Linked DNA regions of Homo sapiens: region 1 is linked to region 2. A link means that fine-mapping ties the variant in region 2 to the expression of a gene that starts in the linked region. Tissue or cell type: hypothalamus. Region 2 holds a variant in brackets; the other region holds the start of a gene. All regions are shown on one strand. Distances are between the middles of the regions.

The links. PIP is the estimated chance that this variant, and not a neighbour inherited with it, causes the effect.
Region 1: it holds the start of IRAG1, and the variant in region 2 is fine-mapped to the expression of IRAG1 in hypothalamus (GTEx, PIP above 0.99). The same link has a PIP of 0.9 or more in caudate, nucleus accumbens, prefrontal cortex and spinal cord.

Annotation. Positions count from the first base shown.
Region 1 is chr11:10,692,556-10,695,195 of GRCh38, forward strand. IRAG1 (inositol 1,4,5-triphosphate receptor associated 1) reads right to left here and starts at 1,200. Exons shown (of 21, transcript NM_130385.4): 1 at 981-1,200. The coding sequence starts at 1,047.
Region 2 is chr11:10,714,046-10,716,889 of GRCh38, forward strand. No RefSeq gene overlaps it. Among named protein-coding and RNA genes, the nearest start is that of IRAG1, 22 kb to the left of the region's middle. The variant C/G (reference allele first, on the strand shown) is at 1,710.

The sequences.
Region 1 (2,640 bases), 22 kb before region 2:
ACTCCTTTGGACCCCCAGCCTCACAGTCCCAGGAAGCTTCCTCCTTTTCCCTGCAAAAGACTCTGCTCAGACCAGATTTACTTCCCTGTGCCACCCCAGTGAGCAGCCTGAAGAGTGTTCAGCAGCTGCCGAGCTCTGGGAGGCTGGAGTGCTGGCCAGGGGTCCCAGACCCCGGGCTGCTGTTTACTCAAACTGCAGAGCCTCTATAGCCTTTACAACTGTTTCCTGGGCAGGAGGGAGCAAGACAGCTGGGCCTCTCTCTGGCCTCTGGCTTCCACTGGCTTTTCCTTTGGAAAAAGCCAGTTCAAATGGTGCTCACTCTAGGAATCGCTTCAACTCGGAGCCCTGGAGGTGAGCAGGGCCGGGCACGGGCCGGGCACATACACCCCCTCTAGGGAGCAGGGAAGGGCACAGGCCAGGGGAAGCTGGAGACAAAAGAGGAGACAGGGACAGAGATAAAAACAGGGACTGTGACAAGAACACAGGATGGGAAGGGCAGAGACAGAAATAGAGGCAGGCTTAAGGATCTAGACAGGTCATGCCAGCCCAGGTTCAAGGCAGAGGGGCGTAGGGGGACAGAGAGAGAGACACAGGAAGCACAGAGGGGAGAAAGCTCTGCTTAGCAGACTTGCCAAAGCTGAAGACCCCACTGTTGCCACAAAGGGGCCCACAGGAAAGCTAGGGGTTGCAATCGCCTGTCAGGACCCACATTTTCACCCTGAGCTGTGCACACTTTCCAACGGCAAGCAAAAGGAGCACAATCTAGTTAAGTTAGGACTGGCAAGATTCACTTCTGATTTAAAACTTAAGACAGCAACAATAAAGATACTCAGCTGAAATGCCACCCAACAAAGCCAGCTCCCCTGGAAAGTTAAAGTTTAGCACCCCCATCCCAGCACCCTGTACCTTTAAGGAAGAGAAGGTTCCCTCCGCTTCCCAGCCGAAGAGGCAGGTTATTCTAGGATATAGGGGAGGCTTACCTAAAACTGAGTTATTCTCCTTTCCTCCTCTGGCCAGCCTCTCTTCACTCTGGGGAGCTTTTACCATTTAAGGTCAATGTTACATCTGGCTCCGGAGCTCAGAGCCGAGAAGCCTCTGGCTGCAGAACCTCGGCCGCACGCCTCCTCTGAGAGGGGCTGGGACTTAGAGCCGAGAGCTCCTCTGGGAGCCCCACTCCGGCCTGGCTCGGGGGATAATGGCAGGGAAAGCCGACCAGCTGGCCTCAGGGCTCAGGGCAGGCTGGGCCTTTGGGGCAGTCGCTCACCCTGGGCCCCTCCGATGGGTATCCACACAGCAGATGGCAGTCCCCATGGCAACTCGTGCCACTGGACACTGTCCTGGCCGGACGGGAACAAAGGGACCCTGCAGATCTCCCCACCCGCCTGGAGCCTCCAGCAAGCATGTGAGCCTGGAGAAGACCCTGGGCCAGCGCCAAGAGAAACTGGGAATGGTTCCTGTCCTGGGGATTCGGGGGCAGGGGCTGCTCCCACTGCGTTAAACTCTTGGGATTGCCAGAGAGAATGGCCTGGGAGATTCAGCTACTCCCAGACTTGGCACCAGCCCCAGGGATGTCAACCTTGCTCCTCCATTAAACAGCCTGTGGTCTTAACATCGTGGAGCCTCAGTCTCCTCATCTCTAAAGTGGAAATAATAATGATAATGCCCGACTCACTAGGTAGTCAGGGGATTAAATGAGATGTTAGTCAAGTGTTTAACACACTGCCAGCATCTCATAAGAGCTAGATCAGTATGAATGAGCTTCCTGCCCCTGCCCAGGAAATCCATACCCTGTCCATACACACTCTTCACCTGCCTTGGGTATAGGGCCTACCCAAGGCCAGGATCATGGAGCTCCAAGCTGGGGGCAAGCCACATGGGGACTTCAGCCCCTTCTGTGGTTAGAGCAGCACAGAGAAACCCTAGGTAAAGTTGCTAGATAAATTACAGGACACCCATTTAAATTTGGATTTCAGATAAACACAGGACATACTTGTATTAAAGACTGTTATTTATCTGAAATTCAAATTTAATTAGTCATCCTCTATTTTTGTTTGATAAATCCGGGAACCCTAGCTTTTGGCCATCATTAGCCACCCAGAAAACATTCAGTAGTCATGGTAGAGAGCACTAGGGATTGGAGCTCCCAGGCCTATGGCCTCAAGCTCTCCTGGCAAACACAGTCCTTATGCTCAGCTCCTGGCCACAGATCAGTTGTGCAGCAGTGGCAGATGCTCTCCACTGAGCCTGGCCCACTGAGCCTCCATCCCAGCACCTTCCTCAGGCATGTGGTTCTCAGGAAGTCCTGTCTCTTCTGTGTGGTTGTTGTAAGAGAGATCACTAACAGGGGTGCAGCGCATGAAGTCCGCTACCCTCATCAATAATTGTTTTTTGTAAATGAAACCAGAGGAGGCTGTCTTGGGTACTAGCCATGCTTTCTCTCAAGTGTCCACACCTGTCCACATGGAGGTACAGGCTCCCCCCACAACCCCCGTCCCCCACAAAGCCACATGGTGGTAACTACTAGAATTGCAAGTATATGGTCTAGAAGGAACTGACCAAACTCTTCAGTGCTGTTTCTCCAACTTCAATGTGCATTAGAACCCCCAAGTGTGAAGCTCCTTGGGTTCCTCTTTCAGAAAT
Region 2 (2,844 bases):
ATAAACCATGCACTAGACAAAGAATTCACTTTGGATCTGAGCCTTCCTTTGTGATCTTCCTTCCTTCTTCTAGAGTAGAAGAAAAAGATATCTTCGCAAAGCATCTAAGCCTGCTTTAGATTCTCCAAAAGTTAGTTTTTAAAAAAAAAAATCTTTTTTTTTTTAATAGAGATAGGATCTCGCTATGTTGCCTAGACTGATCTCTTTTCTTTTTCTTTTTTTTTTTTTTTTGAGATGGAGTCTCACCCTGTCGCCCAGGCTGGAGTGCAGTGGCGCGATCTCGGCTCATTGCAGGCTCCGCCTCTCGGGTTCACGCCGTTCTCCTGCCTCAGCCTCACGAGTACCTGGGACTATAGGCGCCCGCCACTGCGCCCAGCTAATTTTTTGTATTTTTAGTAGAGACGGAGTTTCACCGTGGTCTCAATCTCCTGACCTCGTGATCCGCCCGCCTGGGCCTCCCAAAGTGCTGGGATTACAGGCGTGAGCCACTGCGCCCGGCCACCTAGGCTGGTCTCAAACTCCTGGTGTCAAGTGATCTTTCTGCCTTGGCCTTCCAGAGTGCTGGCGTGAGCCGCCATGCCTGGCCCAAAAGCTAGCTTTGAGGGTGCTAGAGACCTCCCTCAGCTTTCACGGACAGGAATAATGCCTGTTTTTTTTTCTGAATGTTTAAGCATCCTGGGATTGGAAAACTGCAGGGCAGAACTCTGGGGACACAGCACCTAGGTGGTGGGTTCCTTGAGAGCAGCAAGGGCCTGAGGAGAGTGGGTAACCCCCTCAAAGGTGTATAGACTTTGGCAGCCACTTTGGCTCTGCACGTAAGCTGTCACCCCATGGCCCAGAGATTACCTGCCTGTGTTTCAAATGTGGATGTAGAGGGGTGGGGTGGGAATTCTGGTGGGCTAAAAATGTGGTGTGAGCCAAACAGGCTATGAAAAAAAATAGTGTTTGCTATTAAGCAAGACACGCTCAGACTACAAAAGGCAACGAAGTGGGGTTCACCAAAGCAGAACCAGGCTTAATACCAGCTTGAGAGTGAGCTCCAAACACACCAGAGAGCACAGAGAAAAGCAGGATGGGATCTCAGGGGCTACAGCCACAGGGACTTCCCAGGAAGAGGAAGAGTGGAGATCTACAGGGTCAGTGGAGGAGAGCAGGAAGAGAAGGGTTTTACTCTTCCAGAAGTCTGATGGCCTACCGCAGTCCCCAAGGAACATGGTGCAAGTGGCCTTTGCCCAAAGCAGGGACCCAAAGCCACAGCTTAATATCACAGCACAAAATTCATTCCTTCAATAAGCATATACTTTTTTCTACTTCCTCCCAACTAGTCTCCTTGTTTCTTGCTTCTGTCCAATCCAGTCCCCCCATAACAGCCATGGAGAGACTTCTAAAATGGACTCTGTTGCTTATGTTCTCTGGCAGAGGGGGACCAGGCATCAGGGACTGAAAGGCCTCGGCCCCTTGCATGTCTTTCTTCATGTCTCTGCCTGTTTTCTCAGATGCTCCCTCTGCTGCTGCAGTGCTGGGAACCTTCTCCAAAGGGGAAGAGGATCTCCAGTCTCCATCTCCACACCCTGAAAGTCGAAACTTAAAGCTGCCCAGTTCCAACTCAAAAGATGGAGGCTACCCTGGAGTATCCTTGATTCCATCTGCTCCCTGACCTGCTGAGAGTGGCCACCTTCTGTGACTCACTGCCTCTCTACCGTATCCCC[C/G]TCCTCCACACTGGGAGCTTCCAACTCTGCCGGGAAATGGAGCAAGAGGGGCAGAACCCCAGAAGCAGACTCTGCAGCCAGTTTGCAGTCCATGTTAACTTGACCTAATTCACAAGGAGAGGTCCCCATTTATAAAGAAACAAACCTATTCAGGGAAGACCAACTCGGGGACTTCAACACCCTGAAAATACTCCAAGTACCAGAGTCTTTTCTCTCCAGGCCCAGACTGTTCAAGGTCTTAAGCAGCCCAACACTTGGCATTTGGAAAACAAGCAATTACCATTTCATCCGAACAAATGACATCCTGAAGTCTAGTTAGGAAGACAGCCTGGTGAGAGATTTGTTTTCTGAGTTGTAAATGTACTTAAAGGAAAAAAAGTCCTGATGATCTAAAATTCATATTACCTTTGCTTTTGCATTCCTCAAGTCCCTCGTTTAAACAAAAATGAAATTATATGAAATTAGAATTGCTCCCCCTCTTCAAGTAATCTATCAAAGCAGGGTTCGATTGGTATGCCTTCTCCTAAAATAGTGTTTCTCAACATGTGGTCACCTCTGATACATACTTTAAATATACATTCCTAGATTCTACTCCAGATTGCAGACAGGGAGTGGGGGAGGGCACAGTCGTTTCTAACAGGCTTTCTAAGAAATTCCCATGGAAATTTGAGAACCACTGTCCTAACCAGTGAAAGGCAAAAAAATATATACATACAGATAAAAAATAAAGACTCTTATGAGCTTATATGAACTGGAAGTTTTGGAATCCCCCAAATGCCTGTAACTTCTCTCAAAAAATATTTCATGCAATTACTTGCAGAAGGCTGCTAGCATGTTGTAAACAGAAAAACAGATGAGAATACGAACTCCTCAAATCATAAGAATAATTTACTCCAGGAAGGTGATGGGTTGCCCTTGGTGCAGAGGTGGGATGAGACCTGTAAAGACAGAGACATTCAGGTCTGGCAGGTTCCCCTCTGGTTGCGGGTATAGGAACAGACAGGGATACTGGGGGAGGACAAACTGCCATCAGGCAGGGCCAGGAGGCAGAACAGCAGGAATGCTGAGGTGCCCCATCTTTGTTGGGATGTCCATCCTCCTCCATACAGCCTCATGCTTCACTGCATGCCTTCCA